7 linked regions of the Homo sapiens genome follow. The protein of the gene in region 4 purifies or fractionates together with the protein of the main gene of each other region. This does not show direct contact. Each region holds a gene or a part of one and is shown on either strand. Other genes may lie near its edges.

Evidence for each region.
Region 1: the proteins of PIGH (region 4) and POM121 purify together in Homo sapiens (affinity purification with mass spectrometry; one large-scale study listed by BioGRID and IntAct). This does not show direct contact.
Region 2: the proteins of PIGH (region 4) and ANO6 purify together in Homo sapiens (co-immunoprecipitation; 2 studies listed by BioGRID and IntAct, with this or other methods). This does not show direct contact.
Region 3: the proteins of PIGH (region 4) and SLC27A6 purify together in Homo sapiens (affinity purification with mass spectrometry; 2 studies listed by BioGRID and IntAct, with this or other methods). This does not show direct contact.
Region 5: the proteins of PIGH (region 4) and UBAC2 purify together in Homo sapiens (co-immunoprecipitation; 2 studies listed by BioGRID and IntAct, with this or other methods). This does not show direct contact.
Region 6: the proteins of PIGH (region 4) and TMEM63B purify together in Homo sapiens (co-immunoprecipitation; 2 studies listed by BioGRID and IntAct, with this or other methods). This does not show direct contact.
Region 7: the proteins of PIGH (region 4) and CRACR2A purify together in Homo sapiens (affinity purification with mass spectrometry; one large-scale study listed by BioGRID and IntAct). This does not show direct contact.

The regions. Positions count from the first base shown.
Region 1 is NC_000007.14:72,928,095-72,931,594, forward strand, and holds part of POM121 (nuclear envelope pore membrane protein POM 121), read left to right. Parts: intron 1-290; coding exon 291-371; intron 372-1,845; coding exon 1,846-2,017; intron 2,018-3,500. UniProt on the Homo sapiens protein: Essential component of the nuclear pore complex (NPC). The repeat-containing domain may be involved in anchoring components of the pore complex to the pore membrane. When overexpressed in cells induces the formation of cytoplasmic annulate lamellae (AL).
Region 2 is NC_000012.12:45,222,595-45,226,094, forward strand, and holds part of ANO6 (anoctamin-6), read left to right. Parts: intron 1-3,500. UniProt on the Homo sapiens protein: Small-conductance calcium-activated nonselective cation (SCAN) channel which acts as a regulator of phospholipid scrambling in platelets and osteoblasts.
Region 3 is NC_000005.10:129,024,488-129,027,987, forward strand, and holds part of SLC27A6 (long-chain fatty acid transport protein 6), read left to right. Parts: intron 1-2,645; coding exon 2,646-2,844; intron 2,845-3,500. UniProt on the Homo sapiens protein: Mediates the import of long-chain fatty acids (LCFA) into the cell by facilitating their transport at the plasma membrane.
Region 4 is NC_000014.9:67,590,269-67,593,768, reverse strand, and holds part of PIGH (phosphatidylinositol N-acetylglucosaminyltransferase subunit H), read left to right. Parts: coding exon 1-26; intron 27-1,050; coding exon 1,051-1,134; intron 1,135-1,332; coding exon of another isoform or gene 1,333-1,454; intron 1,455-3,500. UniProt on the Homo sapiens protein: Part of the glycosylphosphatidylinositol-N-acetylglucosaminyltransferase (GPI-GnT) complex that catalyzes the transfer of N-acetylglucosamine from UDP-N-acetylglucosamine to phosphatidylinositol and participates in the first step of GPI biosynthesis.
Region 5 is NC_000013.11:99,199,659-99,203,653, forward strand, and holds the start of UBAC2 (ubiquitin-associated domain-containing protein 2 isoform 1 precursor), read left to right. Parts: upstream 1-1,195; 5' UTR 1,196-1,250; coding exon 1,251-1,281; exon of another isoform or gene 1,282-1,753; coding exon of another isoform or gene 1,754-1,909; intron 1,910-3,995. UniProt on the Homo sapiens protein: Restricts trafficking of FAF2 from the endoplasmic reticulum to lipid droplets.
Region 6 is NC_000006.12:44,153,787-44,156,019, forward strand, and holds the end of TMEM63B (mechanosensitive cation channel TMEM63B), read left to right. Parts: coding exon 1-57; exon of another isoform or gene 58-191; intron 192-286; coding exon 287-402; intron 403-578; coding exon 579-659; intron 660-905; coding exon 906-1,097; 3' UTR 1,098-1,733; downstream 1,734-2,233. UniProt on the Homo sapiens protein: Mechanosensitive cation channel with low conductance and high activation threshold. Osmosensitive cation channel preferentially activated by hypotonic stress.
Region 7 is NC_000012.12:3,617,110-3,620,609, reverse strand, and holds part of CRACR2A (EF-hand calcium-binding domain-containing protein 4B), read left to right. Parts: intron 1-1,237; coding exon 1,238-1,339; intron 1,340-3,500.

The sequences.
Region 1 (3,500 bases), on a different chromosome or scaffold from region 4:
ACTCTGGAGGCTGAGGCAGGAGAATCGCTTGAACCCAGGAGGCAGAGGTTTGTTGCAGTGAGCCAAGATCGTGCTATTGCACTCCAGCCTGGGCAACAAGAGCGAAACTCTGTCTGAAAAAAAAAAAATTTACCTTTCAGAAGCTTAGGGATTTTAAACAACCATTTTCTGGTCTATCATGGAATCTGTGCTCCATAGAGATAGTATAAGGTCCCAGAAATATGAGAATACACTTTAAAGGGACAAAAAAAGTCATGTCATTTCATTGAGACTTTTTTGATTTGTCGCAGGCGCCATGATAGCAGTGGCAGTGGACATTCAGCATTTGAGCCCCTGGTGGCCAATGGAGTCCCCGCTTCTTTTGTGCCTAAGTAAGTGGGAGTCCATCCGGATGAAATACCAACTGTTTGGAAAAAGGCCTGATCAGAGCTGTTGCCCTATAGATTTTCCTCTTTGTTTTTTGCATTGCTTAATTGGTTCAGGTTCACGTCTTTGAAATTAGGAACGTTTTGAGTAACTTGCCACAGTTAACTGCCTTCTGTCTAATTCCTTTTAATGTTCTTGCATTAATATGGATGAAATATGCTGAGACTTAAGAGGTTTTATAAATATATTTAATAACCAAGCACATACACAGAAGGATTGCAAAGTTTGTGCAGTGGATAAAACAGTATGAAACCTAAATGTTAAATTTCTACATGTCAGTTTAAAAACAAATTGGAGGAAGAATTGGGTGGAAAGGAAAGTGGCTCAAAAGTATGTGTGGAAAGACTTAGGATACCTTAGGTACCTCATCTGAGTCAGCAGTGTGATGTGGCCGCCAGGAAAGCTAAAGTGCTCCTGGTCTGTGCTGTTAGAAGAAAGACTAGAATGAGGCAGGTGGATGGTATTCCTGCCTTCCGTAGTTCTGCTCACTGTCCGTGGAGCACTGTGGTCAGATCAGTGTACTGCACTGCGAGGGAGGATGTACACAAACGGAAATTCATTCCCAGTGAAGCAATGAAGATGTTAAGGAGATTTGCAACAGCCCAAAGGGGTGGTGGTGGATGTTGGGGTTTTGGAGGTATGGAAGTATTAGCCCAGAGGAGAAAAGTCTCAGGGGGAATAAAGAAATAAGTGAGGGAAGGACAATGGTCTCCAAAAAACCAAAGGACTGTCCCTTGAAAGAAGCAAAATAACTTGCTCTGTTTGACTTCAAATAGGATCCGTGGGTGAAAGAGGAAATACACTGTAATCCACTGTAAGAATAAACTGGTTCATGGTTGACGTGGGTCACTCTAGGAGAGAGTTGTCTATATTGTAACAGGTTGGATGACTGTCCTACAGAAAAGATGCGTAGGAGATTTCTGTTTCCATTGGAGGTTTAGTAAAATGATGGGTTCCTCTTAACTCTGATTTTTTTTTAATAGCTTTGTTGAGATATAATTGACATAAAATAGACCGTACTTGTTTAAAGCATGTGACATTTTGACACACATACACCTGTGGAACCATCCCACCACTAAGATAATGAACATCCTTCACCTCCAAAAGTTCCCACATGCCTGTAATCCCTCTCTTTACTTCCACCCCTGTTCCCAGGCATCCACTGATCTGTCTTCTGTCACTGTAGATAGGTATGCATTTTCCAGAATATTCTATAAATGGAAATCATACATTTAAGTTTTAAATATTTGGCTTTTCTTACTGACTTTGTCAGATAGATTTGGCCAGATTGTTAGCAGTAAAAATTAAAAGCATTATTCTCTTCCCTTCATGTTATTAAGAAAGATGTCATGACCGTGGATGAAATCGTAAAAGAATTTTGCCTTCAATAAAGCATCTAACTGTCTTCTCTTTTATTAGGCCTGGGTCTCTGAAGAGAGGCCTCAATTCTCAGAGCTCAGATGACCACTTGAATAAGAGATCCCGAAGCTCTTCCATGAGCTCCTTGACAGGCGCTTACGCAAGTGGCATCCCTAGCTCCAGCCGCAATGCCATTACCAGTTCCTACAGCTCCACTCGAGGCATCTCACAGGTACAAGTACAGCTCTTTTAATGTGGGGGACATGAATTCCCAGCGTTCATTCATTGACTAGGGCCAGACATGGTAGCTTAGCCATGTAATCCCAGCACTTTGGAAGGCCAAAGCGGGAGGATTGCTTGAGCCCAGGAGTTCAAAACCAGCCTGGGCAATATAGTGAAACCTTGTCTGTACAAAAGAATTTTTAAAGAAAATTTTTTAAATAAAGTAATTGATTAGCAAAGGTTTACTGATCACCTTCTATCTGTCAGACATTAGAATTGTCTTTAAGCTAATAGAAAATACAGATCATTGAGTGATCAATATAGGCCAGCGGAATGGAGTAGAAAGCCCAGAATGTACAGCAGTGCATGTGTGCGAGCTGATTCGAGACAGAGCTGTGTTGTAGATAAACGGACAGAGGGTGATTCGAAAGGTAGACTGAGTCCAGCTTGTATTGGGTCGTAAAAGAGATTTATCTTATAGGCGTTTAGAATTGAAAGCGGGGTTTTTAAACAAGTGGTCATGATTTTTTGGAAAAGGGATTATCGCATAGTATAGGGAACAGGGCAGGCTTTGCTGCTGGACAGACTTAGATTCAAATCTTGGCTCTGAGGCTGGGCGGGATGGCTCATGCCTGTAATCCCATCACTTTGGGAGGTCAAGGTGGGAGAACCTCTTGAGTCCAGGAGTTCAAGACTAGCCTGTGCAACAGAGCAAGACTGTGTCTCAAAGAAAAGGAAAAAAATGCTTGGCTCTGACATCTAGTAGCTATAAGGTCTTGGGCAGACAATCACATAACATCTCTTTTTCTTATCTCTGAAGTGCTGTTGCAGTGATTGAGGGTAATATTTAAAAAGCACCTATTACAGTGGCTGTCAGTAAGTGGGTACCCAGTATACAGCAGCCAGACAAAAAGATGTAAAGCATGTATGGAGAAATGTTTTTGAGAGGAGGAAGATTTTGAGACGAGTTCATCAGCCCAGAAGGCTCTGACAGTCATATAAATGAACATTAATGACCGTAATATCATTATCCCTCTTAATAATTTAAGAGGGATAATTAATATTATTTAATATCTAGTTATTATTTTTGATATGCAAACTTTTCCAGCTTTGGACTATGGGTTCCAAACTGGCTCCTGTATCCTTTATTTTGATCCCAGCAGTCTTCGACAGATAGCTTCATTGCTTTTTGCCCACCTTCCCAAAGTCCATTTTTAGCCTATACCGAAGTTGGGTGTTTCTTCAGAAAGCTTTGGTTTCTTCCAGTTAGAACTGTAGAGACTACAGTCTAAGTTTTAGGAGAGATAAGATAGACAGATCCTCTAGAAAGGGGAATATAAATAATTCATAATATTCCAAATTCAAATTTATGATAGTAGGATTTTTTATGTAATTTATTTGATTTTATATTTTTATGTATTACACCAAAAATGTCGGTTTATAATTACTTTGATCCTAGTAACACGCAATTTCTTTTTTTTTTTTTTTGCCGG
Region 2 (3,500 bases), on a different chromosome or scaffold from region 4:
TTTAGGCCTCAGAAGCAGAAGCAGGCCTCAGAAAACAATCTCCATCTTTGACCTGCCCTATTTTTACCTTTGTCTCTCCAATTTTAGAAACTAAAACTATAATCTTTCCCCATCTTTCTGTGTGAGAACTGCCCATAAAGAAATTCTCCCATCTACCTTGTCTGAATGTAGGCCATAAGACCCCCATTTCAGAAGGGATCCTGCCCCATACCCTGGAGGAAGGAATGCTGCACAGAGATGCCAGAAAAATCTGATCAGACAGGCCTTGCTGGGTTTCCCCATTCAGTCTATTAGTATTAAATCGTATGCTTTTTGTCCAATCACTTTTCAACATGGTTCAATCATGACTATCCAATGAAGTCTCCATAAAGGTCCAAGAGGACTGGTTCAGGGAGTTTCTGGATAGCTGAACAGTGGAGGTACCTGAAGGTAGCTTGCCCTGGGAGGGCGTGAAAACTCAGTGCCTTTTCCCGCATACCTCACTCTATGCATCTCTTCATCTTTATCTTTTATAATAAACTGGTAAACGGGAAGTGTTTCCCTGAGTTCCCCAAGCCACTACAGCAAATTAATGGAACCCAAGGAGGGTGTCGTGGGAACCCCAATTTATAAACAGTTCATCAGAAGCATAGGTAAAATGACCCGGGGCTTGTGATTGGCATCAGAAGTAGTGGGGGGCAATTTTGTGGGACTGAACCCTTAACTGTGGGATCTGACACCATCTCCAGGTAAATAGTGTCAGAATTCACTTGGAGGATACCCAGCTGGTATCCACTGCAGAATTGATTGCTTGCTTGTTGCTGGGGAGAAATCCTTGCACATTTGGTCACTGAAGTCTTCTGTGTTGATTGTTGAATAAGAGAATAGAAAAAACACTTAGTGTTTTTCTGCTCACAGCCTCCCTCCCCTCCCAAGTCTGTCACAAACCCAGAAAGTTGTTAATGATCCTCTTAGCCCAAAGTGCTCACAATGAATTCTCACTTATTTTTTTGTTCTATGCAGTTAGCATTCATCCTGTATTTTGTCTTTGTTATTCATTATCTTTGCGTTTATCATTCCCATAACCATAGTGTACATTTCTTGGTGACTGGCCTAGGTTATTTAAGTCTTCTAGAGATCATGCAAAATATCTTAAATATTGTACATATTCCATTGCTATAATTTTTAAGAGTTGTCTCTTTTCCTCATTCTCCTCTAAAATGTAAGCTCCCTGAAGACTGGTACCTTGTGTGTTTTGTGTTTTAAGCTGTGTCCCTCATGGCACCTTGGTAGGAGCCAAGCAAGTAATTGTGGAAGGAATGGATGATTTATTCTTCTAAGATAACTTGATTAACATAATGCCTAGTGGTTTTATGGCCCTAGTAGAATTTTCTTCTTCTGTGGCACTTTGAGATACCCCCAGTTATCTGTTCTAAAAATGCTGAGTGTATGTATTTTACCAGGCACTCTGCTAGGTTCCAGGTTCACTGTTCTCTAGTACCTCACTGTCTAGAAAGGAAACGGATAATTTCAGTAACTTGTGATTAATACTGTAATCAAGATCTGTACCAGGTTCAGTGGTGATACCAAGGAGAAAGCACGTGACCTTGCCTAGGGGAATCCAGGACAGCTCTATTGGGGCAGCACCTGAGCCAGCCCTGTTGGGATGAAAAGACAGGTGAGGGCATGGGGCTAGGACAGCAGAGCGTCCTGAGTGTTTCTAAAGGCATGATGATTTCTCAAAAATTAAATCTTGATACACCCTGGCCTTATTCACGATGGCAAGGGGATCATGTTGTGTACATATCATAAATATATACACATGTATAAATATGTATACATTATATATACATATGTGTGTGTGTGTCTGTATGCACACTCTCTACCAAGGAGATGACAGCTAAAAACAAAGCAAACTATCCTCAAACTCTCTTTTAGAATAGTCTTGCTTCTTTTTATAAACCTTTTGTTATTTTCAGTTTCAAGTCCACAGACATGATTTATCTTGCACATTCTTTCAAGTCAAATAATAGCTTTCCAAAAGGTCCTCCAGTATCCTCTTAAAATACTTTATTTGGTTCTGAGACAAACACAGCTCTAAAAGAATAAGAGTTACTCTTACTTAATTTGTATTTTAGCTGTATACACACTCGTCTTTTCTCAAGGGGTTGCAGCAGTCACATATGTCGATTGCTCTACATTTATTATTTTTTCTTTTGGGAGCCTAGAAATTTAGACCAAATGCTCCTATGAAAATTTCCATCAGTTATATGGGATTTTAATTCTGATATTCTTGAAGGGAGATTATAAAGGATTAAGAATACCGGAAATAAAGGGCCGGACATGATGGGTCATGCCTATTATCTCAGCACTTTGGGAGGCCAAGGTGGGAATATTGCTTGAGCGAAAGAGTTTGAAACCAGCCTGGGAAACATACTAAGACCCAATCTATACAAAAACTGCAAAAATCAGTTGGGCATGGCACATGCCTGTGGTGCCAGCTGCTTTGGAGGCTGAGGTGGAAGATTCAATTGAACCCAGGAAGCCAAGGCTGCAGTGAGCTGTCATTGTGCCACTGCAGTCCAGCCTGGGCAACAGAGACCCTGTCTCAAAAAAAAAAAAAAAAAAACTCACGATTTGGCTTTAAATTAAAGGATGATATTGATCTCTTAGTGATATCTGTAGCAGATGATTAAAATGATTGTATTTTAATAAGTTTTCACTCTAATCCTTTAGGTTTTCTTCTGTTACACTTTACTTGGTGTGTATTTTGTATTTTAGCTGTACATCTTAACCAAAAACACTCGTCTTGAAGCGGGGAGAAGATTTCTTATTCATCTTTGTATCTCACAGCCTGAATATCGTAATGTTTTTCACATAGTAGATGTTCAACAAAACATATGTTTTGGGACATTTTTAGATTTTTTTTTTTTGAGATGGAGTCTTACTCTTTTTCCTAGGCTGGAGTGCAGTGGCAAGATCTGGGCTCACTGCAAGCTCCACCTCCCAGGTTCACGCCATTCTCCTGCATCAGCCTCCCGAGTAGCTGGGACTACAGGCACCCACCACCACGCCCGGCTAATTTTTTTGTATTTTTAGTAGAGACGGGGTTTCACCCTGTTAACCAGGTTGGTCTTGATCTCCTGACTTCGTTATCCTCCCGCCTCGGCCTTCCAAAGTGCTGGGATTACAGGCGTGAGACATTTTTAGATTTTAATGGAAGCTTTGCATGCCATATGATTTAAGCTGTCTGATTATAATGAATTCAGGGCTGGGTCTGTGCAAGAGTAGTCAATTTTAGAACAGAAAATATTTCCAATTACCTTTAGCCAACGAAATGTACTACTCAACTGATTGGTAAATCATATGTAAAGATACAGATTGAAGGAATTTTATTCAGCCAAATGATTGTCTTATGACATTATTTTTTTTTCTTTAGTTTTGTATTTTGGTCATTGCAACTAAAATTAATTAGCATCCATCCCAAAAAGCAGTTTGAAGAATACTGGTAGATGAGTATG
Region 3 (3,500 bases), on a different chromosome or scaffold from region 4:
TTATTGTGGACGATTAAATGGGATGTATATATATTCCTGGGGGACCTGGTATGTGGCTTGTTACTTTCCTCTCCTCAGCTTCTCCCTCTCACTCCCCTCCCTTCTCTACCAAGGTAGACTTTCTTACAATTTTAGGTTAGAAATTTTCATGAAAGCAAGTACTTCAATTAACTTGCTGCTGCATATAATCAAATTAGAAAATAAAATATAGAGATGTGCACTTAGAATTGTTTAGAGATCCAGTATGGATAAATCAAGCCAAAATTAATTTGTATTGCCTTAAAATATGTTGAAACTGCATTTCAGAAGTGGCTTCCTAAATCTTTTCTTCAAATGTGAAGATAAGGTGACAAACCTGTTTTTATTTTCTGGTAGCTGAAAGACTAAAATAAAAAATGCAAACTTTGTCTATTAAAAAACAAATCTCCCAAATCTCTGAATTTCAAGCCTACTGGCATTTATCAAATATGTTTCTCCAATTCTAATCTGTAGACACTGCCCATGGGAAAATAATTTCTGAGCAGAGTGCAAAGAACTTAAGTGCACTTTTCTACTGTTCTATTTCTTACAATTATAGTAATATCTGATGTTAAAACTTGAATCCCAGAACTGTGCTTATGTAACCTCAGGGTTTCTTAAAAAGCTGGTTGACCCCAAATATCTGTTTTTCTATTTTGGAATTCTCATTATGAGCTACTCAATATTTTTTCCATTAAGGCATTGTGTCTTCACAATGTAAATTATGCCCAGACAGGAAAGATATGAATACACTGTGACCTATTTAAACATTTGCAACAATTAGTTTGTCAGAAAAGAAACTGTCACCTGTGTCCTAAAAAAGAAAAAAAAACGTAAGTTTTAAGGGAGATATAAGAGTCTTGAAAAATTCTGAAATACAGGGAATGTAGACTGACAGAATATATCACAGAGGTAAGGCTTTGGAGTCAGATGTACCTGGATATATATATATATATACTCCGACTCCTGCATTTGACAGCTGTATGACATTGGGCAAATTCCTTTTTTTACGCCTCAGTTTTTTCACCTTAAAATGAAGATATTATCTGGGCCTTTCTTATAGGTTTGTGATGAGAATTAAATGGATTACATATGTAAAACACTCAGAATCATGACTATTATGCAAAAAGTGCTCAATAGGTATAATTGTGATGATAATGATGGTGATGATGATGATATGATGGTGTTGGTGATATGATGATATGATGGTGATGATATGATGATGATGATGATGATGATGCTATCAGACTGCTGGGGCAGAGAAGATTTGCTTTGGCCAGTGACCTATGTGCCCTTGAAAGCCAGAATGCCCAGGAGTGGGAGAAATGGGAGTCGAGTAAAGACTGTTGGCTGGGTGCGGTGGCTCACGCCAGTAATCCCAACACTTTTGGAGGCTGAGGTGGGAGGATGGCTTAAGCCCAAGAGTTCTAGATCAGCTGGGCAACCTGGTGAGACCTCGTGTCTACAAAAAAATTACAAAATTAGCTGGGCCTAGTGGCATGCATCTGCAGCCCAGCTACTTGGGAAGTTGAGGTGGGAGGATCGGTTGAGTCTGGGAAGTCAAGGCTGTGGTGGACCATGATCATGCCACTTCACTCCAGCCTGGGTCACAGAGTGAGAGTTATTTTTTTTAAGAGCATTAAAAAGACAGAAATCACTCTGTATCATAGTTTGCTGGACTCCAACTTCATCTAGCCGCATGAACACTGCATCACTTTACAGCAGGCATAGCAAGTGGACAATAGCCTTGAAGACTTCCAGAGCAGTGATTGCTGCTGTCCTTTGTCCTCTCGTCTTCTCTTAGAAGTAGCTTTTACCTTGCAGATTGCTGAGAAAAACCTTAATTAATTTGAATAAGTTTGATTGGAAAATTATTTCAGATAATGTGTCTAAACATAACTGAAACTAATAAGTATCATAGAATAGGAAACCTTTTCAATGTCTCATCTCTTTCCCATCAAAAATTTCCAGAATAGCATCCCAGAGGAATAAACTGTTTTATTATAATAACATGTGTGTTGGATCAGAGATAGTATTATACAGAAACCTTGCCACACAAAGTCATAAAAACTTGAATTTGAGTTATAGGTCCATTTATTTCTCTGAGCGTGGCAACTATTTTACCCCTCTCGGTCCTAGTTCCTTGCTGGTGAAATAGGGATTATATCAAAGGATTTCTATGCAGAATAAGCAAAGTGGCATTTGCAAAGGGCTCATGGTAAATGCCCAATAAAAAATGCTATCATTATTTTATTAACACTATCACTACATTTGTTATTTATATAACAAATGTCAATATTATCTGTGGTAACATCTACATAATCCAAAACAAAAATAGCCGTTGGTCTATCCACCTGGGAAGTATAAGAAATCTAATGAGGCTTTTCTTTCCATTCAATTCCCTTTTTATTAGTTTTTCCAAAGTAATTTGTATTTGTGGTAATCTATGAAAGGATGTGCTGGATATAGGCACCAAGGGTAAATGATGTCAAATACAGAAATAGGTTCAGAGGAAGCTGAGATAAGCAGCATTGGTTGTGCTGGCCAGATATAATATAGATACATTCATGGTGTGTGTAACAATAGTTTTAATCAGATGGCTGCAAAAATGTCGTTCTTTCTTGCAGGAGAACCTGGACTTCTCATTTCTCGAGTGAATGCAAAAAATCCCTTCTTTGGCTATGCTGGGCCTTATAAGCACACAAAAGACAAATTGCTTTGTGATGTTTTTAAGAAGGGAGATGTTTACCTTAATACTGGAGACTTAATAGTCCAGGATCAGGACAATTTCCTTTATTTTTGGGACCGTACTGGAGACACTTTCAGGTATGAAATGTTATGGGATCCATAGCTTGTTCTGTAATTGTGAACCATGCTTCTATAGAAACATCAGAGACCACATATGCTTTAGCTTTCAGGGCAGACAGAGCCCTTTTATCTCCATGTCTCCTCATTAAAACATTTATTGGCCATCTGTTTCTAGACTGAACCACAAGTTAAATTTTGATGTAAAGTTTTATGATTATTTTAGTGAATCAGTTTAGAACAAATCAGTGAGCTCCTTTTTAAGGAAATAAAACTGGCAGACAGATGTAAAATATAAATGGTAGGGTTAAAACAGAAAGCCAGTTTGGTCAACTGTAGTCTAATTCTTGGCCTAATGATAAAAATTTTGAAGCAGCAAAAATCCCCTTTCTCACATTTCCTTTTTTAATTCCCTAAGATTATTTTAGGCCTATGAAATTATTTTGCTTTACTAGTCCAATGACTTGAATGAATAAGTAACTTCCTACATCCTTGCCTTCTTGTACCATGTTATAAGCTCACTTTATATAAAATTATTTCAATTAAAACAAAATATTCATTCAAAAGCATTAAAGGAGTCAAAGGGGGTTAACACCTAGAAATTTAAGTGGGTCAGAGTCAAAGGGGTTAACACCTAGAAACTGAAGTGGGTCAGTGTCCTAAAAGACAACTAGAGC
Region 4 (3,500 bases):
TTGTCATCAATGAGGCCATTTACATGGTAAGTATTTAAAAGGTAAGTATTACAGGCCTCTCTGGAGGAGGTAGCCAGCCCATGGGATGTTCCCAGATTTAAACTAAAACCGTAAAAGTGAGACTTATATTTAAAAGGTAAATCTCTTTATTTTTAAAGAGATGCAGCAGGTTTTCATGGATAGGGAATTAGCATTTCAACTTTATCTTCAAGACCAACTTCAAAATTATCACTGGCATTTTTTCCTTCTCTTTCTATCTTTTTTCTTTTTTTTTTTTTGAGACAGGGTCTCACTCTGTTGCCCAGGCTGGAGTGCAGTGGCTCGATCACAGCTCACTGCAGCCTCAACTTCCCAGGCTCAAGCCATTCTCCCACCTCAGCCTCCTGAGTAGCTGGGACTACAGGCATGCACCACCATGCTTGGCTCGTTTTTTCTATGTTTTGCAGAGATGCAGTCTCACTATGTTGCCTAGGCTGGTCTTGAATTCCTGGGCTCAAGCCATCCTCCTGCTGTGGCCTCCCCAAGTGTTCAGTTTACAGGTTTGAGCCACTACGCCTGGCCCTGTCTTTTTTCATTTAAAGAATGAGAATATACTTTTCTTCCACTTCAAAAGCTATCAAGTGTTCTACTACTTAAACATTTGTGAAAAAGTGTTGAGCCTTCCCTTAGAAAAATAGAATGTGGCCAGGTGTGGTGGCTCACGCCTGTAATCCCAGCACTTTGGGAGGCCAAGGCAGGCGGATCACCTAAGGTCGGGAGTTCCAGACCAGCCTGACCAACATGGTGAAACCCCATCTCTACTAAAAATACAAAAAATTAGCCGGGCATGGTGGCGAGCGCCTGTAATCCCAGCTACTTGGGAGGCTGAGGCAGGAGAATCGCTTGAACCTGGGAGGTAGAGGTTGCAGTGAGCCGAGATTGCGCCACTGCACTGCAGCTTGGGCAACAGAGAGAGACTCTGTCTCAAAAATAAATAAATAAAGGAAAAAGAAAAAAAGAATGCAAAATGAGTTTCACTTAGACTTTGCTATTTGATTTATTTTCTTACAGCAGAAGGTGATTTACTACCTCTGCATCTTATTGAAAGATCCAGTGGAACCACATGGGATATCCCAAGTAGTACCCGTCTTCCAGGTGAGCATAGAATACTTTTACCATTCTCCAATTACTCCTCAACCTTTTCATTAGGAATGTAAATTCCTTTTGTCAGAGTATTGGAAGATACCTGACAGCTGTTTTGAGTGATAATTAGGATTTCAGTTATTTGAGAAGTTCCTCTCTGAGGCAAATGTATTCCTTAAAAATATTCATGCACATTTTATTTTATTTTAGAGACAGAGTCTCACTTTGTCACCTAGGCTGGAGTGCAGTGACAATCACCACTCATTGCAGCCTCCACCTCCCAGGCTCAAGAAATCCTCCTGCCTCAGCCTCCTGAGAACTTGGGACTACAGGTGTGCACCATCTCGCCTGGCTAATTTTTTTTTTTTATTTTTAGTAGAGATGAGGTCTTGCCATGTTGCCTAGGCTGATCTTGAACTCCTGAGTTCAAGCAATTCTCCTGCCTCAGCCTCCCAAAGTGTTGGGATTACAAGCATGAGCCAGCATACCTGGCCTCATGCACATTTTAAAGAACACAATCAAATATATAGCAACTTCTGCCTATAAATCACCATTCATCTACTTTGACTCTGTCAGTCTACTACTGTACACTTTTTTTAGATAGAGGTAATTGATCTTACATTGTACACTATTGTGTGTCTTGCTTTGTAAATAATTTAATATGTATGTATCCTACAAAGGCCATTATATTTATTATTTTAAATAATTGTATAATATATTGAAATATCAGTTTATTTAGCCACTCTTGCCAGCTTTTAAAATCATGCCTGGGTTTTTTTGTTTTGCTCTTACAAAAAAAAAAAAACACTTATCAGCTGGTGCAGTGGCTCATGCCTGTAATCCCAACACTGTGGGGGAGGCTGAGGCAGGCAGATCACTTGAGCTCAGGAGTTCGAGACCAGCCTGGGCAACATGGTAAAACCCCCATCTCTACAAAAAATACCAAAATTAGCTGAGCATGGTGGTGCACATCTGTGGTCCCAGCTACTGGGGAAGCTGAGGTGGGAGGATTGCTTGAGCCCAGGAGGTCAAGGCTGCAGTGAGCTTTGATCATGGCACTGTATTCAGCCTGGGTGACAAGAGACCCCATCTCAAAAAACAAAAATTATACAAACATAATAAATTACAAAATAATAAATTTAGAGGTAGGTATTTATGCATGTATTTATGTATACAGTTAACCCTGCCTCACTGACCTTTTTCACAAAGGATTTAAGATAAGCCAAAAATTATTTTGCATTGTAATTCAAAATTATTTTATTAAAGCTTATGAATAGTTTTATAGATTTCTAGTGTTTAAGATCGGGCTCCAGAGATTGGACAACTTTATCATACTTTGGGGATTTTGTACTTCTTTTTCTACCATCCTGGCTAATAGTGGATTTAGCTTTTTTAGCTTAATATGTAGGTAAAGGCATTAAATTTGTATCTCTTTAAATGATAGGCTTTTCATATTTCCTTGTATTACCTATCAGTATTTCCTCTTACTTTAAACTACCTATCTTCTCTATTAGTCAAGTAGAATCTGAATATTATGTATTTGTATCTATTTTTATATATTTTTAACAATTCTTTATATATTTTAGGTAGTGCACTTTTATTAAATATACTTTCACATATATTTTTTCCATTCTGTGGCTTTTCTTTTAATTTTGGTTATTACATTTCATTGTGTAAAACATTTTTCAATATTTACATATTAAACTGCACTTCTTGTGTTTGAGGGCTGTTTTACAACTTGTGACATTTCTCAAGGGTCCATTTTGTTTTTCCTCTTGCTTATTCTTAGAGATGGAGTTCATGAAATTTAGACAGATTAAAAAGCTATCATTTGATCTCCCACCTCGCATAGTTCACAAGCTGTGCTGTAAGCCTAGCTGGGACTCTTTCCAGCAAGGTGTGCTGAGGCCTAAACTTCTTAACTCCATGAGCTCACTGCTGTGTCATTTATACCCCTTGATGTGGGTGAGAGATTGAAGTTGCATGTGGTCCCGGCACCATGGCTCAAGCCTGTAATCCCAGCACTTTGGGAAGCCGAGGTGGGCAGATCACTTAAGGCCAGGAGTTCAAGAGCAGCCTGGCCAACATGGTGAAACCCTGTCTCTACTAAAAATACAAAAATTAGTTGGGCATGGTGGTTCGTGCCTGTAGTCCTAGCTACTTGGGAGGCTGAGGCACAAGAATCATTTGAACCCGGGATGCAGAGGTTTCAGTGAGCCGAGATTGTGCCACTGGGCGTGGTGGCGAGCACCTGTAATCCCAGCTACTCGGGAGGCTGAAGCAGGAGAATCACTTGAACCTGGGAGGCGGAGGTTGCAGTGAGCCGAGATTGCGCCACTGCACTCCAGCCTGGGCAACAGAGCAAAACTCTGTCTCAA
Region 5 (3,995 bases), on a different chromosome or scaffold from region 4:
TTTCCCCATAACATGCGTTCTCACATAATTGCATGTATTTCTGGGGTACAGTGTGATGGTTCCATACATATACACATTGTGCAACCATCTAATCAGGGTAATTAGCACATCCATCACCAAAACACTTGTCATTTCTTTGTGGTGAGAATATTCAAAATCCTCTCTTCTAGCTATTTTGAAGTTAACATTATCGTTGAGTATAGTCATCCAAACGTGCAAGAGAATACCAAAACTTATTCCTTCTAACTATAACTTTGTGTCTGTTGACCAACCTCTCCCCATCTTCCTCCCCACTAACTCTCCTCTGTACAAGAATAACCACTCTTTTACTCCCTACTTTCACGAGATCAACTTAAAAAAAAACTTTTTAAAACGACTGCATGATATGTTTTCAGGCTCACACATTTAAAAACCGTGACTTTGGCAAAGAGTAACTTCATTCTGCTGGGGAAAAAAATTTAAATGGCCTGAGTCCGGAAGCTCGCCAGGGCAGAAGCGCAGGGTCGCTCCGCCGGGCTCGCCGGGCCGGGGACCCCCCAGCCACCCGCCACCACGGCGGGGAGGGCAGGGTGCTGACTCCAGGGACCACGACAGTCGGCCCCGGTGGTGGGGATTCCGCGCGGGACCCACGCGGGAACAAAGAGGCGGCTGGACGGCCCAGCTCTCCGCACCCGGAAGGACCTGTTCCACCTCTCCGGCTCCCGTACCCCTCTATCCGCATCTGAGTGACCAGATCCCACTGCAGTCAACAGCCCGCGGGGTAGCCAGCTTCGAGGGACCGCCCGGAAAGACACAACGCGCGTGGAAGGCGCCGGGCGTCCAGTCTCGGGAGAGATTAGAAGTGGCGCTCCTGCCCAGCGCCGGCAATCCAGGGGAATCCGCGGCCATCGCGGATCCACCAGGGGTGAGGCGGCACTGAGCACAAGTGTGAGGCTCTCGGGAGCTACGCCTCCGCTTCCCCAGTGCCACCCGTTTTTACCTCAGGCGGTTCTGACCGCCATCGTTTCAACCTGGAGAGGTGAGCCCTCCCCTACCGACGCACTTCCCTTCCCCGGCAGGAAGGAGGGCGCTGACCCAGCGGGCGCACGCCCCTGACTGCGCATGCGCCGGGTGCGCCGTTCGTCAGCGGCGAGTGGCCTCGCGGCGCCGGATTCGTCGCTCCGCCAAGAGTGCGCCTGCGCGGTCGCTGGGGCTCGCACTTCAGCTTCCCCTCCCCCGGCGCCCTCTGGGGCTCCGAGCCCGGCGGGACCATGTTCACCAGCACCGGCTCCAGTGGGCTCTGTGAGTACCGGCCTCCGCCATCCTGGCTGCCCCCTACACGCCACCCTAGGCACCTCTTTGAGGAGGCTGGGGCAGCGGGGACCCTCGGGTTTGCCGGAGGTGGTGGGGCCGACCCTCCAGACCCGCGTCCGAACCCTGCTAGTTCCCGGTCTTGGGGGTCAGCGGAAACCGCCCCCATTTCGGCCTGGAGGGGCGAATGGGGACAAAGCCCCGCCGCCCGCCCCGACCCCACCTGGTATCCCCAGGTGCTCTGCCCAGGAGTCTCTTGGGGCCGCTGCAAGTGGGCAGGTGCCCTGGTGTTCTCGTGGGCCGGCCCCAGGCCCTTTGCGGAGCGTGTGCCGCGCTGAAGGAAGGGGCCGTCCCCCTTACCATGCCCCATTCTTTTAGGCTTGGGGGACCGAACTAACTCCCCCCGCCCCCACTTGCAAAGTTCAGCCTCCGCTTTAGAAGCTGACCTCTCAGTTTCACTTGGATGTGTTTCTTCTTCAGTCTCCAAGAAGAGTTTTTAGACAAACACACACTGATGAGAGTGCTTTCAAGTGGAGGGAAGTTAGGAAGTCGTGGCGAGGGAGCGCAGCTGTGCTGCTGGATGTTGCTGTTTTCCTGGCGTGTTAGCGGTGGTCAGCAGGTAGGGGGCGGAGTATTTTTACAGCCAGTTAAACGGCTTTTCTCACTGAGTGTGTGGAATTGACTTTCGGTAAGGTAGACTGCGTGTTAACAGTTAGGCACGGGTACAGCAACGGAGAACAGCTCTAATTTTGCAATTGCTTGTCACTGTTCATACTCCATGTGAAGTTAATGCTGCTGGAGGACAGAAACATCTGACATTTCCAAATATTAAAGATCTGTTGGCCGGGCGCGGTGGCTCACGCCTGTAATCCCAGCACTTTGGGAGGCCGAGGTGGGCGGATCACGAGGTCAGGAGATCGAGACCATCCTGGCTAACACGGTGAAACCCCGTCTCTCTACTAAAAACACAAAAAATTAGCTGGGCGTGGTGGCGGGTGCCTGTATTCCCAGCTACTCGGGAGGCTGAGGCAGGAGAATGGCGTGAACCCGGGAGGCGGAGCTTGCAGCGAGCCGAGATTGCGCCACTGCACTTTGGCCTGGGCGACAAAGCGAGACTCCATCTCAAAAAAAAAAAAAAAAAAAAAAGATCTGTTGGGAATGTCATGAATCTTCTGAGAATGTGTGTCTCGTCTTATAGTCTGACAGTGAGTTAGTATCAGCGCCACAGGCATAATTTTAAATCTTCCTCACTTCTCAACTTCTCAGGTTTTGAAGTGGTTTCAATATTTATGATTTCCTTTGTTTCATAATTAATTTGATTTATGGCATCTTTCATGGATTGGTCCCGGAGTATGTTACAACTACTAAGTAATCTTCCCCAAACTACCCTTTAGATAAAGAGCATTAGGACTGTAGCTGAAGCTGACAGTTCAAGAAGGCAATGTGGTTTTCCTGGGATCACACAGTGAGCCAGGAACTACTGGTTATGAAATTAATGGTGGAATTCTTCAATTTCAATTGTTCTTTAGCATTTTGATCTATCCTTGCTGGCCAAAGTACATATAAAAAAATAAAGGGCAAGAGAAATCTTATTGGTTGCTGTACTGTATTAGCCATGAGATTATATTGGCCAAGTGTATTCAAATTTGATACAGGGCAACTGTGGGGAAGATAATATTTTGTTATCTATGGCACATGGTGGTGAGTGTTGAATTCTAGGAACCAAACTGTTGCCCAGGGAGAGGCGTAGGTCTGGAGCCCCTCTGCAGCTGTCTTGGCCTGTTTCTAAAATTAAGTGCTTCTGCAGTGTAAGAGTTGTTGGGATGGCCGTTCCTCAGAAGGCTGTGTCTTACATGCTCATTTTACAAACATTTTGGGCATCTCCTCTGGGCGATGAACTGGGCTAGGTGCTGGGAATGCAGCAACGAACAGGTCCTGGTCTCAGTGCTTACAGTGCTGACGGAGCTTAGGCACAGTTTTCCAGGACTGGTCATTAGAAAAGGCTGTGTGTCAGCTTTAACATTTTTCTCTGGAGAAGCTACCCACTGAGGGAGAAGTGATTTCCTTTGTTTTATTTTATTTATTTATTTATTTATTTATTTATTTATTGAGATGGAGTCTCACTGTTGCCCAGGCTGGAGTGCAGTGGTGGATCTCCGCTCACTGCAACCTCCGCCTCCCGAGTTCAAGCGATTCTCCCGCCTCAGCCTCCCAAGTAGCTGGGATTACAGGTGCCCACCATCACACCTGGCTATTTTTGTATTTTTAGTAGAGACGGGGTTTTGCCATGTTGACCAGGCTGGTCTTGAGCTCCTGACCTCAAGTGGTCCTCCCGCCTCGGCCTCCAAAAGTGCTGGGATTACAGGCGTGAGCCACTGCCTATGATTTCCTTTAGATAAGTTGAGGGACCCTTTAGCAAATCAAAATTCTGATCCTGAGCAAGAATCTGAAAGAAGGACGACACGTGTACCTAGCCCTACCCCCATGGGTGGTGAATAACAGTCCCTTTCCAGGGATAAATCCCTGCCATTTTCTACCACCTGCATGTTTCCCACGTTTTGTGGTTAGTAGATAATAGTATTTTAGTGTTAAACTTGCCTTTCTCTCTCATCCATTCAATAAGTGTCTGTTGGGTACCCATATCAGCCACACACTGTTGATATACAGAGGATAAAGTAATAAGCAGGATCAAGGAGACCAGCATC
Region 6 (2,233 bases), on a different chromosome or scaffold from region 4:
TGGCCGCGCCCATCCTCTGCCTCTTCTGGCTGCTCTTCTTTTCCACCATGCGCACGGGTGAGGGATCCCTACCCAGGGAACGGGGGGTGGCGAGCAGAGTGGATTCCAGCCAGAGCAGGCCACAGGAGAAGCCGCATGGCTGGGGGTGGCAGGCAAGGGGCCTGGGAGAGGCTGGGGCCAGTCTGTAGCACCTGGGAGAGTGAGGACTGCATTCAGAGGGTATCAGAAGCTGGGGTGGGGAGGCCCACAGGAGATAGCAACCCCATTCTTTGCCCCCCAACACCAGGGTTCCTAGCTCCCACGTCTATGTTCACATTTGTGGTCCTGGTCATCACCATCGTCATCTGTCTCTGCCACGTCTGCTTTGGACACTTCAAATACCTCAGTGCCCACAACTACAAGGTGTGGGGCAAGGGTGGCAGGCGGATGGCTGCGGGCAGGAGCTCAAGGGGAGGAATGCAGAGGGCCACAGGGCTGGCGAGGGCTGAGGGCAGCGCCAACAGGGCCAAGCGGGCGTGGGGTCATGATCAGGGCTGAGGACATGCCCCCACTTCCTGACTCATTCTGGGCCCCTCAAGATTGAGCACACGGAGACAGATACTGTGGACCCCAGAAGCAATGGACGGCCCCCCACTGCTGCTGCTGTCCCCAAATCTGCGGTGAGTGCCCTCAAGGGTTGGGAGGGGCCTCTGACAGACTCAGCCTCAAAGCCCAGTGTTCCCTTAGTCCTGCAGAAAGGGGAACCTGTGCCAGACCCCATGGGGGCGGGAAGAGAGCTGGTCTCCCTGGAGGGCTGCCCCCGCCCCCCAGGGCCCTGCCCACTCTGCTGTCCTACATGCCCTGGTGTTCCCGCAATCCATGAGGGGCAGCTGTTCACCTTGCCCCCATTTCCTCTCCTCCTTCAGAAATACATCGCTCAGGTGCTGCAGGACTCAGAGGTGGACGGGGATGGGGATGGGGCTCCTGGGAGCTCAGGGGATGAGCCCCCATCATCCTCATCCCAAGATGAGGAGTTGCTGATGCCACCCGACGCCCTCACGGACACAGACTTCCAGTCTTGCGAGGACAGCCTCATAGAGAATGAGATTCACCAGTAAGGGGAGGGAGGGGCCCTGGAGGCCACATCCTGCCCCACCCCACCCCCACTCCCACGGACACTAAAACGCTAATAATTTATTAGATCTAAAGCCCCTTCCTCCCCAGCCCCTGCTTTCATTAAGGTATTTAAACTTGGGGGTTTCACTGCTCTCCCCCATGATGGAGGGAGGGAGCCCCCCAACCTCAGTGAGGAGAGCCCCGAGCCGGCCCCGGGGCAAAGAGGGGTGCAGAGGGAGTTCCCCCAGATCAGTACCCCCCACCCCTCCCCAGCTAGTAGCATGACCAGGAGAGGGTTAATGAGAGCCAAGAGGAGTACCTGGTGCACCTGGTGCCGGTGGCTGGAGACCTGGGGGGCAGGTGGATCTGGGGCTGTTCCCCCCCCTCCGTTTTTTCCACCCCACAGTTCCTCCTGGGATCTGGCCCTCCAGGGAAGTGGAGCCTCCAGCCCCTAGGGGATGCATGAGGGGGGAGGGGGTGCTGAGTGGGAGGAAGAGTCAGGCTCACAGCTGGGGTGGCCTGGGGGTGGGGGTGGGCAAGGCTGACACTGGAAAATGGGTTTTTGCACTGTTTTTTTTTTGGTTTTTTTGTTCTTTTTTGTTTTTTTCCTTTAAAATAAAAACAAAGAAAAGCTCTGAGGCAGGTGTCTGACTTGTGCTGCCCTGGGCACCTGGGCCGGGTCCCCACCCTCCTATCTGGAGGGCCTCTTTGAGGTCCCTGCATGACGCTGGGCAAGGGACTTGTTCAGAGTCTCATTTCTGTGTCACTGAGAGGAGAGAGTGGGGCTGGGGAGAGACTTAAGGGATATCTCAGAGGCAGGAAGGGCCCCTGTGCCCAGGTGGCCACCATACCAGCCTCGCCCACTCTGATCATTCCCCTGAGTCCCTGAGCAACACACATGGGACAGAGATTCAGGGAGAAAAGGTCGTGCAAAGCCACAGGGTCCATGCTGGGCCAGGACGAAGGCCCTTCTGAGCACCTCAAAGTAAGCCTGGCGCCAGCCCATCTGTCCCTTCCCCAGGAGGGCCTGATCTCCTCAATGAGAAGCCCCCTCCCACCCTCCAGTCAAATCTTACCCATTCTCCAAGACCCAGCTCAAATTCACCTTCTCGCCAGGCGCGGTGGCTCACGCCTGTAA
Region 7 (3,500 bases), on a different chromosome or scaffold from region 4:
ATGTTCTTTTTGATTCTCTGAGCCTTAACTTTCTCATTTGTTAAATAAGAATTTTTTTCCCCTATTAAATGGCAGTAAAAACGAATGCACAGATTAAGGAAACATTGAGGCTTAATTTCAAACATAATAGCATTTAAATTTAAAATTGGTATATCTGTAAGATGGACTTTGGACATTTATTTGAAATGCTCAAGTAAAACAGCTAAAGTATTGGCAAAACTGTAACTGCTTATTAGCTTCTGTTATCCCACAGGTCCCTCTATTTAGTAAAACATTTAGCTACAATGAATAACTATTTGTTACTAAATTATGATTAAAAGCCCCTAATTAAATATTTAAGTAAAAATAACAACCTTCTTCAATGTGCACATTACCACATTTACTCACTGAATGGCAGTCGGTGGTCCCGGGCCCTTTGGGCGCCCTCAGGAGAGACACACACGGTGCCCCTTTCACCAGGGAGGAGGTGGAGACCCGGGAAGCAGGCCCCTGGCTGGTAAGCCACAGCCATTGGGGAAGTAAACAATGTGATACCTTGAATAAACCTGTGACTTCTGGCCCAAGCAGTGCAGCTGCTATGGCCACAGTGTTCCTTCTTACACAGGGCTTTCTTCAGAGCCAAAGCGCCCAGTGACAGGGGTCTGTGGTGCCAGCCTCCAGCAAGGCACATGGCAGTCATTTATGGAGCCTTGTGGGCGCAAGACCATGAGGCAGATTTGGATCCAACCCTCAGAAGCTTATGTGCAATCAGGAGGCCTCTAGTGATGCAGTTTCTAATCAAAGCAGCCTCCAGAACAACTCCAAACCATGGGGCATTCATGGCCTTGGTCCATCGGACTAAGCCTGGCCAATTAGGCACGCCCTCAGGGTGCTGTAAGCTCTGGAAGGAGGCATGCAGCCTGTTGGCATCAACTGTCCCCTCATCCAGCACACCTTGGGGGGCCTGCTGTTCCATCTAAGATCCAAGGAGCATCGTGAAGGGGGAGCGGTCATTGCACACACAGGGACTAGGAGACACCACAGGCAGGCCTCAGGCACCTTGCAAAAGCATGATAAACTGAGGCTCTTGGAGAAGGCGGCTGTTTTCTGCTTTCAGGATGACTCTGTTACGGCCTCACCTTTTATGGCAGCAGGGGATTCTCAAGCGAGGTCCCATCTGTCCAGCCGGCATTGTTAGCCTGCCCTCTGGGCAATCCTATGACACCCCTCTCAGTTGAAAACATTTTCTGTTCTGCAGGAAGCTGTGGGAGACCGGGTGCCTGTTCTTCTGCTGGGTAATAAGCTTGACAACGAGAAGGAGCGGGAAGTCCCCCGGGGCCTCGGAGAGCAGCTTGCCACGGTAAAGAGCAAGCATTTCCATCTCTCTGGACAGAGTGTGACCCCGAGGGAAGTTGGGCAAGTGCCCAAGAGCCTTGGTGGGGACTTTCTCTGGAAGTGCCATGGGAAGGAAGCAACTGGAAAACATGGGTGTCTTGGTATCCTGGGAATGGCTCAGCTCCTGTGCATGTAGAACTTTGCATAGAAAGCCACAGGTTGCAAGATGGAGTTGGTTAGGGACCACTAGGGCATGGGGAATTATCCTAAAGTCCCTTCCTTGTAACTCAGAAGTATACATTCTAAGATAGCAATAGTTTACTTATTTCAATCCCCCTCCAATCTGCATTTCCACTTGATCACCCCCAGGGATGAAAAACTCACTCTCTGCAAAGCAGTGTATTCTTCTGCAGACCACTGTGTTAGAGAGTTCATCCTTTTTGTCAGGATTGAGCCTCAAAGTCATGAACTCAAGATAAACTCAGGAGACACACTGGAAAACCTACCATTAAAAAGCATGGAGCCCCTTGCTCAAAAATGGAATCAATGGGGCTTAATGGAAATCAGGCAACAAAATGTGGTTCCTTGGCTTCTTTTACTGCCTCAGAGTTTGTTTTCATGGAACTGTGTGTCTGGGAGGTTGGGGTGCTTACCAGCCCCATGATTCTGTAATTCTTTGCATGCTCATCCTAAACAGCGTTTCATGAGTTCAGAGCCTGGGAGAACGAGCACAGATGGTAAGACTCAAGGAAAAAGGAGGAGGAAGGGCCTGGCAGGTATCTACATGGAGGGTCACTAGACAGTTACATGTCCACAATTCCGAAATCCAAAAAGCTCTGAAAACAGAAAGGGTTGTTTTGTATTTTATCTGGCAGAAAAATCTGACCAGAAATGACACGAGGCTATTCATGGTTGTAACCTCACTTTGAGTGAATAGTCAAAGGTTTCACTGAAGAAATAGTAATATATTTGATTATAGAGTGCTGTCTGAAATCCACTGAGGGTATTATATAATATATGGTATATACATGTATTACCTTTCTAAGATTCAGAAAATTCTGGATTTCAAAATATACCTGGACCCAAAGATTCTATCCATTCTCTTTTCTTTTCTTTTTTTTTTTTGTTAGTGAAAAAAAAACTAAGACTCGGGAGTTAAGTGATACATTCGTATTATCACAGCTCACCCGAGGTGGGGTCAGAACTCAAAGCAGGAAGGCAAATCATGTCTTCCAGTTCTAAGTCCTATGTCCTTCTCTCCCCTCCCCACTATTCCCACCCCATGGAACTTCTACTCTTTGACAGACTGACCCAAGAGATTGCAGATCTGAGAGAAATGCAGACAAGGAGAAATAGAGCCCATGGGGCTGGGTGAAAAGGGCAGAGGGTCGAGCTGGCCTGTGGGTGTAGATGGGGAAAGCTGCACTGGGAGCATGGCAGAGCCTCCTGAGCTACAGCCACAGAACTGTCCTCACTCAACTGGCCTGCATCCCCTCAGGGCATCAGCCTCCAAGAACAGGCCATCTAAAAGCCAGGGCCCTGTGCCATCAGCATTGTCATAATGACACCAGTAATCTATTAATGGGAGTGATCAATGGAATATGATGAGCCTTAACCAAGGGCTCCCGCACCATGCAGGCAGCACAACCTCATCCTAATGAGCTGACGGCCAGTCTGGTGCACCAGTGCTGACAGCCAGGGCAGCTAGAGTATTAATTAACTGGTGCGAAAGAGAATTCCTACCGGAGTGCCTCATGACACCTGTCCCCAAGGCCTATGGAATGCCACTGTCTTGGGAAAAGCATGCTGCAAGGAGCTCTGCCATTAACTCAATGTGGGACTGAACAAGCCAGCCAAGTGCCCTCTCTCACTACAGCTTATCTGCCTGTGAAAGGGGGAAGAATATTGCCCACCCTGGCCTTTGTGTCTTTGCCTGAATCACAGGGCTGGTGTAACCTGGAATGAGCATGTGTGTACTTGAGAGGAATTTGGGAAAGTGTAAAGAGGAACTAAGACAGCGTATGGTTTCATTGTTTTACAATTGTTATAGCTCACCTGGGAGATGGTTACAGAGCTTGCATTGTCAGGGAGGCTGTGGAGACAGAAATCAGCCATGTACAGAGTGGGGAAGGATTATGAGGAAGGTCAAGGGGCTGCGAGAGGAAGTGAAGGCTGTAGGTAGATGC